Regions from separate parts of the Homo sapiens genome. Here region 1 is linked to region 2. Evidence: fine-mapped expression QTL. A gene starts in region 2. The other region holds a variant in brackets. All regions are shown on one strand. Distances are between the middles of the regions.

Region 1 (5,247 bases), 30 kb before region 2:
GTATTCCATGGTGTATATGTGCCACATTTTCTTAATCCAGTCTATCATTGTTGGACATTTGGGTTGGTTCCAAGTCTTTGCTATTGTGAATAATGCCACAATAAACATATGTGTGCATGTGTCTTTATAGCAGCATGATTTATAGCATCACACTACCTGACTTTAAACTATACTACAAGGCTACAGTAACCAAAACAGCATGGTACTGATACCAAAACAGAGATATAGATCAATGGAACAGAACAGAGCCCTCAGAAATAACGCCGCATATCTACAACTATCTGATCTTTGACAAACCTGAGAAAAACAAGCAATGGGGAAAGGATTCCCTATTTAATAAATGGTGCTGGGAAAACTGGCTAGCCATATGTAGAAAGCTGAAACTGGATCCCTTCCTTACACCTTATACAAAAATCAATTCAAGATGGATTAAAGACTTAAACGTTAGACCTAAAACCATAAAAACCCTAGAAGAAAACCTAGGCATTACCATTCAGGACATAGGCATGGGCAAGGACTTCATGTCTAAAACACCAAAAGCAATGGCAACAAAAGATAAAATTGACAAATGGGATCTCATTAAACTAAAGACCTTCTGCACAGCAAAAGAAACTACCATCAGAGTCAACAGGCAACCTACAAAATGGGAGAAAATTTTTGCAACCTACTCACCTGACAAAGGGCTAATATCCAGAATCTACAATGAACTCAAACAAATTTACAAGAAAAAAACAAACAACCCCATCAAAAAGTGGGCAAAGGACATGAACAGACACTTCTCAAAAGAAGACATTTATGCAGCCAAAAAACACATGAAAAAATGCTCACCATCACTGGCCATCAGAGAAATGCAAATCAAAACCACAATGAGATACCATCTCACACCAGTTAGAATGGCAATCATTAAAAAGTCAGGAAACAACAGGTGCTGGAGAGGATGTGGAGAAACAGGAACACTTTTACACTGTTGGTGGGACTGTAAACTAGTTCAACCATTGTGGAAGTCAGTGTGGCGATTCCTCAGGAATCTAGAACTAGAAATAACATTTGACCCAGCCATCCCATTACTGGGTATATACCCAAAGGACTATAAATCATGCTGTTGGAGCATTTTAAAAGCAAATATCAGATACCCTTTTATTCAGAACTCCTTTTTTTTTTTTTTTTTTTGAGACGGAATCTCACTCTGTCGCCCAGGTTGGAGTGCAGTGGCACGATCTCGGCTCACTGCAAGCTCTGCCTCCCGTATTCTGGCCATTCTCCTGCCTCAGCCTCCCGAGTAGCTGGGACTATAGGCGCCTGCCACCACGCCCGGCTAATTTTTTGTGTTTTTAGTAGAGATGGGGTTTCACTGTGTTAGCCAGGATGGTCTCGATCTCCTGACCTTGTGATCCGCCCACCTCAGCCTCCCAAAGTTTTGGGATTACAGGCGTGAGCCACCGCGCCTGGCCTTCCTTTTTTTTTTTTTGAGACAGTTTCGCTCTTGTTGCCCAGGCTGGAGTGCAGTGGTGCGATCTCGGCTCACTGCAACCTCTGCCTCCTTGGTTCAAGCAATTCTCCTGCCTCTGCCACCCTAGTAGCTGGTATTACATTTTTTTTTTTTTTAAAGAGACAGAGCAGGTTGTTTTAAGTTCCCTTTCTTAATAGTTGTTACTTCTCTTGTTTTAAGTAAACAGTTCCTTCACTTTCAAGAGTGGAATCATAATGCAATGACTTGAAATTAATATGTTAGAGGCCAGGCATGGTGGCTCATGCCTGTAATCTTAGTGCCTGGGAAGGTCAACACAGGAGGATCACTTGAAGTCAGCAGTTCAAGACCAGACTGGGCAGCATAGTGAGTCCCCATCTCTAAAAAAAAAATAAAAAATGAAAAAATTAGCTGGGTATGCTGGTGCATACCTGTAGTTTCAGCTACTTGGGAGGCTGAGGTGGGAGGATTGAGTGAGCCCAGCAGTTTGAGGCTGCAGTGAGCCATGATAGTGCCATTGCACTCCAGCCTGGGTGGCAGAGAGACCTTGTCTCAAAAAAAAAAAAAAAAAAAAAAAAAGATTAATATGTTAGAGCTGAATGAGTCTTAATTTTTTTTTTAATTGAAAATGGTATTTTAATTGACAGGGAGTTTTTGTTTTTGGTTTTTTTTTTACGTAGGATTTAATATAATTTGTGTAGGGATAAGTTTATTGATGAATTCATGTGAAGCAAAGTGGAAAATCAGATCTTATAGCAGTTGACGATCTACAGTTTGTGTTTTTTTTCACAAAAACTTAAACTGTGGGATATTCAAACTTGAGCCCTTTCTTCTAGCCTCTTAGTTTCAGTTTTCTGTCTTCCCAAAGTACAGATCATCTCTAACTTAGAAATATTGCTTGCTGAGAAATATTAAAGTTGGCGATTGTCTTCTACTCTGGACCTATTTTTGTACAACCTTTCAACATGCCATTTGTTTGGCAGGAGAATGTATGCAGACTTAGAGCAGATTTCATGAAGATTCTAAATGATTTTGATTTAGTCCACAGGGATGTTTCCATGGAAGAATACTTCTTTTTCTTTTGAGATGGAGTCTCACTCTGTTGCCCAGGCTGGAGTGCAGTGGCGCAATCTCGGCTTACTGCAAGCTCCGCCTCCTGGGTTCATACCATTCTCCTGCCTCAGTCTCCCGAGTAGCTGGGACTACAGGTGCATGCCACCACGCCTGGCTAATTTTTTGTATTTTTAGTAGAGACGGGGTTTCACCGTGTTAGCCAGGATGGTCTCAATCTCCTGACCTCATGATCCGCCCACCT[C/T]GGCCTCCCAAAGTGCTGGGATTACAGGTGTGAGCCACTGCGCCCGGCCCATGGAAGGAATACTTCTAATTATCTTTATTAAATAAACTAAACTTTTTTGGTTAAATTTTATTGTTATTATACTTTAAGTTTTAGGGTACATGTGCACAACGTGCAGGTTAGTTACATATGTATACGTGTGCCATGCTGGTGTGCGGCACCCATTAACTCGTCATTTAGCATTAGGTATATCTCCTAATGCTATCCCTCCCCCCTCCCCCCACCCCACAACAGTCCCCAGAGTGTGATGGTCCCCTTCCTGTGTCCATGTGTTCTCATTGTTCAATTCCCACCTATGAGTGAGAACATGCGGTGTTTGGATTTTTGTCCTTGTGATAGTTTACTGAGAATGATAATTTCCAATTTCATCCATGTCCCTACAAAGGACATGAACTCATCATTTTTTATGGCTGCATAGTATTCCATGGTGTATATGTGCCACATTTTCTTAATCCAGTCTATCATTGTTGGACATTTGGGTTGGTTCCAAGTCTTTGCTATTGTGAATAGTGCTGCAATAAACATACGTGTGCATGTGTCTTTATAGCAGCATGATTTATAGTCCTTTGGGTATATACCCAGTAATGGGTTGGCTGGGTCAAATGGTATTTCTAGTTCTAGATTCCTGAGGAATCGCCACACTGACTTCCACAATGGTTGAACTAGTTTACAGTCCCACCAACAGTGTAAAAGTGTTCCTATTTCTCCACATCCTCTCCAGCACCTGTTGTTTCCTGACTTTTTAATGATTGCCATTCTAACTGGTGTGAGGTGGTATCTCATTGTGGTTTTGATTTGCATTTCTCTGATGGCCAGTGATGGTGAGCATTTTTTCATGTGTTTTTTGGCTGCATAAATGTCTTCTTTTGAGAAGTGTCTGTTCATGTCCTTTGCCCACTTTTTGATGGGGTTGTTTGTTTTTTTCTTGTAAATTTGTTTGAGTTCATTGTAGATTCTGGATATTAGCCCTTTGTCAGATGAGTAGGTTGTGAAAATTTTCTCCCATTTTGTAGGTTGCCTGTTCACTGTGATGGTAGTTTCTTTTGCTGTGCAGAAGCTCTTTAGTTTAATGAGATCCCATTTGTCAATTTTGTCTTCTGTTGCCATTGCTTTTGGTGTTTAGACATGAAGTCCTTGCCCATGCCTATGTCCTGAATGGTAATGCCTAGGTTTTCTTCTAGGGTTTTTATGGTTTTAGGTCTAACGTTTAAGTCTTTAATCCATCTTGAATTGATTTTTGTATAAGGTGTAAGGAAGGGATCCAGTTTCAGCTTTCTACATATGGCTAGCCAGTTTTCCCAGCACCATTTATTAAATAGGGAATCCTTTCCCCATTGCTTGTTTTTCTCAGGTTTGTCAAAGATCAGATAGTTGTAGATATGCGGCGTTATTTCTGAGGGCTCTGTTCTGTTCCATTGATCTATATCTCTGTTTTGGTACCAGTACCATGCTGTTTTGGTTACTGTAGCCTTGTAGTATAGTTTGAAGTCAGGTAGTGTGATGCCTCCAGCTTTGTTCCCTCTTTTTCTATTGATTGGAATAGTTTCAGAAGGAATGGTACCAGTTCCTCCTTGTACCTCTGGTAGAATTTGGCTGTGAATCCATCTGGTCCTGGACTCTTTTTGGTTGGTAAGGTATTGATTATTGCCACAATTTCAGAGCCTGTTATTGGTCTGTTCAGAGATTCAACTTCTTCCTGGTTTAGCCTTGGGAGGGTGTATGTGTCGAGGAATTTATCCATTTCTTCTTGATTTTCTAGTTTATTTGCGTAGAGGTGTTTGTAGTATTCTCTGATGGTAGTTTGTATTTCTGTAGGATCGGTGGTGATATCCCCTTTGTCATTTTTTATTGTGTCTATTTGATTCTTCTCTCTTTTCTTCTTTATTAGTCTTGGTAGTGGTCTATCAATTTTGTTGATCCTTTCAAAAAACCAGCTCCTGGATTCATTAATTGTTTGAAGGGTTTTTTGTGTCTCTATTTCCTTCAGTTCTGCTCTGATGTTAGTTATTTCTTGCCTTCTGCTAGCTTTTGAATGTGTTTGCTCTTGCTTTTCTAGTTCTTTTAATTGTGATGTTAGGGTGTCAATTTTGGATCTTTCCTGCTTTCTCTTGTGGGCATTTAGTGCTATAAATTTCCCTCTACACACTGCTTTGAATGTGTGCCAGAGATTCTGGTATGTTGTGTCTTTGTTCTTGTTGGTTTCAAAGAACATCTTTATTTCTGCCTTCATTTCGTTATGTACCCAGTAGTCAATCTGGAGCAGGTTGTTCAGTTACCATGTAGTTGAGCGGTTTTGAGTGAGTTTCTTAATCCTGAGTTCTAGTTTGATTGCACTGTGGTCTGAGAGACAGTTTGTTATAATTTCTGTTCTTTTACATTTGCTGAGGAGAGCTTTACTTCTAACTGTGTGGTCAATTTTGGAATA
Region 2 (5,247 bases):
GCCTCCCAAAGTGCTCACACCTGTAATCCCAGCACTTTGGGAGGCTGAGGCAAGTGGATCACTTGAAAGGCCAGGAGTTTGAGACCAACGTGGCCAACATGGTAAAAAACCCTGTCTCTACTAAAAATTAAAAAAATTACCTGGGTGTGGTGGTACACGCCTGTAATTCTAGCTACTCTCAAGGCTGAGGCAGAAGAATCGCTTGAACCCGGGAGGTGGAGGTTGCAGTGAGCCGAGATTCTGCCACCTCACTCCAGACTGAGCGACAGAGTGAGACTCCATCTCAAAAAAAAAAAAAAATGCTACTGATGTTATTTTGATTATCAGTGGAATTTGATTTGAGGACTACTGAACTGCAGAAATCAAGAGTGGAGGAAAAAAAAATTGATCTCATTTTTCCCTAAACTATGCATGTGAGATTAGCCATCATTAATTATAACTTTTTTTTTTTTTTGAGACAGTTTCGCTCTTGTTGCTCAGGCTGGAGTGCAATGGCGTGATCTCGGCTCACTGCAACCTCCGCCACCCGAGTTCAAGCGATTCTTCTGCCTCAGCCTCCCGAGTAGCTGGGATTACAGGCGCCTGCCACTATGCCCGGCTAATGTTTTTGTATTTTTAGTAGAGACGGGGTTTCACCATGTTGGCCAGGCTGGTCTCAAACTCCTGACCTCAGGAGATCCACCTGCCTCAGCCTCCCAAAGTGTTGGGATTACAGGCATGAGCACCGCGCCTGGCCAATTATGACTTTTAAAAGGAAAATATGTCCATTAATTTGAGAGCATGGACCAACGCAGTAGTGACATCAACTACTTCACTCACTTTCAGTCTCTTACCCTTGGCAGCCTCCTCCAATTGTTCATGGTGTTTTGGAACAGAGTGGTTGGTACCTAATGTGACAGTGGTCACTTAATTTTCAGTAGGTAGATGGCCTTGGGGCCCAAATTTCAGTGACTTGTTCAAAGGGAGGAAGCAAAGGAACTGAATGAGGAACTGACTTGGGCTCAGGAGTATGCATGTAGGCCTCCGTGAAAACATCTGAATGAACACAGAGTCCACTGTGGTCAAGAAATATAAAAATACTTAATGTGCTTGTGCCTCAAGCTTCTGCCATCAGGGACAGGTTTATTTGCTTTTATTTGTCTACTCTTAAGATCTATGCTTTGTTTTGCTTAGAGAATCAAGTTTAGCATTAATAAACACTAGTGTGTAAACTACATTTTCAGATGGGGCAGAAATGACCAGTTCCTTTGGTTTCATATCATCATATAAACATTTTTTTATTTTTTGAGACAGGGCCTCACTCTGTCACCCAGGCTGGAGTGCAGTGGCTGCTCTTATTTGTGGTTATGACTGTAAAATATAGGTAAATATAGGTAAGATCACTCAAATGCCTCAGGGTTATGAGTGCTTGGGGGAGAATGGGGTCAATGAGGTCCAAAACCATGACCTAGAAGTCATCTTGTCCTAAGTATTTTACCACTTGTAAGACAGCCAAGCTGTACATGAGGCGGGGGATCCTACTGGGAGATAAAGCATAATCAGAGCAGAAGTCTAGTATATGAGGCTCTTCTTCGATAGCAGAAGGAAGCTACCCTTTTATGTCCTCAAAAGGTCCCAGAGTGCTGTATTTCCTCGAGGAAGAAGGAGTATCAGATCATTACTACAATGGTTGAACTAGTTTACAGTCCCACCAACAGTGTAAACGTGTTCCTACTTCTCCACATCCTCTCCACCACCTGTTGTTTCCTGACTTTTTAATGATCGCCATTCTAACTGGTGTGAGATGGTATCTCATTGTGGTTTTGATTTGCATTTCTCTGATGGCCAGTGCTGATGAGCATTTTTTCATGTGTTTGTTGGCTGCATAAATGAACACTTGGACACAGGAAGGGGAACATCACACACCTGGGCATGTTGTGGGGTAGGGGGAGGGGGGAGGGATAGCATTAGGAGATATACTTAATGTAAATGACGAGTTAATGGGTGCAGCATACCAACATGGCACATGTATACATATGTAACAAACCTGCACGTTGTGCACATGTACCCTAGAACTTAAAGTATATTAAAAAAAAAAAAAAGAAGATCATTACTACAGAAGAGATCTTCCACCCTGTGGCAGAACTTCCTTTTATCCCATTCACGGATCTGGTTGCCCACGAAGCAGGCCTGCCATGAAAACATCTGAATGAGCATGCAGAGTCCATTATGGTCAAGAAATGGAAAAATACTTAGTTGTCATGTACATTAATTATTTTTCTTAAACCTTGGGGTAATAGTCCGGGGGCAGGCCTGCTTTTGGGGCCTGTGTTAACCCCACTGTGCTCCAAGCACAGAGAAACACGGTGCAGCCCACAATTCCTTCTGGTTTCTTGAACAAGTGTCTTCTCAGGACTCCTCTCAGTTCCTGAATTTCACAAAACTGCTACCGACGTTTTACCAGTTAGAAAAATGTCCAAAATAGGATAACCCAGAATTGGGGATGGTGGAGGGTGAGGAAAGTATGCTTTGCCAAGAGACCGACATCATGTACAGTGAGAGTAAAAGGAACGGGCTGTTTTACTGGCGAGTAGAAGTTGTTGACTAATGTCAAAGCAAGGAAAAGATTCAAGGATCCGCTATATCCGTGCTTATACTTGGCAAATCGCATTTCTCTGGTTCAGGGCACAATAAATTCCATCACTCCACAGGAAAGACTGCCCTACTAGAGTCAACTGCGGTTGTGGGCACTTTCGCTGACAAGCGAAAAGCCTTGAGGTAGGTGGATGCTCCCAGGAAACTCAGACGTCCGAAGTTCACGAGGAGTTGGGTCGTGAGAGGGGCCAGACCTCGATCCGCGGGGCGACAGCTGCAGTGTCGCGTCGCGAGCAGGAGCTTGGCGGCGTAGAGCGCCAGGGTGCCAACTTCGCTTCCAGGCCTGTGGGTTCCGCCCGGCGCGTGCTGCTGTCAGTCAACGCCCTCGGCCCGCCCCCGCCGAAGCTCCACCAATCGTAGCCGGGGGTCGGAGGTGAGGAGACGTCGCCGGGTGAGGAAGCGGGGGGCTAGCGGCCTGGCGCTGCGGCGACCGACCGGGGCGTCAGGATCCCTGGCCCCCGGAGAGCGAAGGGCGGGCGGGTCCCGGAGGTGAGTGCTGGATGTGGTCTGTGTGCGGACGTCGGGAGGGGCCGCTGCGGGCGGAGCGACCCATTGCCCGGCTCTGCCAGCGCGCTCCTAGACTGCGAAGCCCCTCCCTCCGCGCGCATCTGCTCCCGAGTCCCCAGCCCCGTGCTGATAGGTGCAGCCCCTGGAGTCGTGGCTGTGGGCATAGGTGCCAGGGAGGGGAGGCCCGGGTCGAAGGCATAGGCAGAATTGGAGCCCTGGGTTGCCAAAGCGTCGCAGCTAAGAAGCCGGAGCCCAGGCTAGTACCGGCGGGGCGGGGCGGGGCGGGGCCGGGAGCGAGCATCTCCATCCTCAGTTTCCTCCACTTGCGGCAACGCCACAGCTCGGTACAGTTCGGACCTCCACGCCGCAGCGAAAGACTTCTGTCCTCCAGGCACCTTCACTAACCCGGTGCGGAGCACTTGGCGACGCCTCCCTGCCCATCTCATATCTCTCGGCTCATCGCTGCTCTGGGCACCAGCTGCCTCTTGGCTGGCGCTGCTGTCACACGGTGGACTGTTCTGGCCTTACTGAGCTGCCGTTTGGGGACATCAGATTCAGGTCGTATGGGGAGAAACGAGTGTAACTTTACAAGGTGTGATATGGAGACCCTGGCCTGTTGCCCATTTCTGCCTGATCAAAGGCCACTAGGGTGGTAATAAGAGGGGTTCCGAGGCAGGATTTATGCAGCATTTGTGCAAAATTGTAAATTTTCTTTGCTTTTCATTATTTACATTAAAGGGGGATTGTTGCCACATTTCCTAAAGATAAAGAATCACACTGCTTTGGTGGGCCTCCCCGCTCCTCACTGTGGTTAATTATCATTTGGAACATCAGGATATATTTGAAACTGGCAGGACTCCCAGACCCTGATAATTGTTTGGAGGCAGCAGTATACTATTTCTCCGTAGTGTTTGGGTTCTGCTTTTCTTTGAATTTGTTTAGTATTTTTTTTTCCATGTCTGTTATCCTCACAATCTCTTTGGGGCCAATAGAGTGCTGTTATTTGTTACTGAGAAAGGAAACGAAGGGATAAATCACTGAAGTGGGGTTAGCCTTCCCCATTGCCTGGGAATTGGGTTGTCCTGACCTGACAATTTAAGTTACAATTCAAACATCATTTTGGAAAGGCCATCCTTTTACCAACTGAAACGAATAACAGTCCCTGGCCACTCTATACTAGTGGTTCTCCCACTTGGCTGTATGTTGTAATCATCTAGGGACCTTTTTAAAAAAAGCTACTTCTTGGGCCTATTCCTACAGATTCTGATTTAATTGTTTGAGTGGGGCCCAGTTGTTTGTATTTTAAAAAGCTTCCACGATGATTATTAATGTTCATGCAGGGTTGAGGACCACAACCTATCAATGTGTTCAATATTTAAAAAATAGCACTTAGTACAGTGTGACTTATATAACTGATTTTATTACTTCTCCACTTGCTATGTAACCTCCATGAATACATGGGGCCCTGCTTTGGAAGAAGGGCAAGGGAAGGTCCAGATGAGTCAGCACTTTGTGCATGTGAGGCTGCGGGACACGAAGGAGAAATGGAATCTGTGGAAACAAGTCCTGCAGACTACTGCCCCTGCTTCATCTTTTTTCAAGGATTGACCCTATTTGGTTAACCCATCATTGTTAGGGTCCTGGATGGGTCTCCAGTTCTTCATTCTGTAGATCCTGCCCTGTTTCAAGGTCTTACTCAGCATCCTATGAAATACAGCTACTCTTTGCAAAGTTTGAAATATATGCATTTAAGTGTAGATATTTTCCATGTAAATCTGTGCTTTTGTCTCTTACTATTGTTCTGAACTATATATTCTGAACTAAAGTTCCAGACACTTGCTGTGACTAGTACAGTTACATTTATTTGGCCAACAGGTCAGAGTAGTTAGGATAGGGACTGCCTCAGAAACTGGACAGTTTCTATGCAGTTGTCCTATAATATATTATCTTTGTGGAATGGTTGCCTGAGAACATTAGCTCCCCAGAGGATAGGGTTGCTGTCTGATTTTCTTTGTTTAATATTGAACTCAGGAATTTCATTTGTGTTACTGACAATTGTAATTCCAAATGATGTAAGTGACTGCTTTGTAATTCTCTTGTGAGATG

The links. PIP is the estimated chance that this variant, and not a neighbour inherited with it, causes the effect.
Region 1: its variant is the best candidate, but not a certain one, in a credible set for the expression of NXPE3 in pancreas (GTEx, PIP 0.51).

Annotation. Positions count from the first base shown.
Region 1 is chr3:101,746,108-101,751,354 of GRCh38, forward strand. All of the region lies in intron 6 of CEP97 (centrosomal protein 97), which reads left to right. Among named protein-coding and RNA genes, the nearest start is that of CEP97, 24 kb to the left of the region's middle. The variant C/T (reference allele first, on the strand shown) is at 2,784.
Region 2 is chr3:101,776,202-101,781,448 of GRCh38, forward strand. NXPE3 (neurexophilin and PC-esterase domain family member 3) reads left to right here and starts at 3,010. Exons shown (of 8, transcript NM_145037.4): 1 at 3,010-3,123. RefSeq lists enhancers at 2,824-3,118, 3,683-3,732 and a silencer at 2,923-3,272.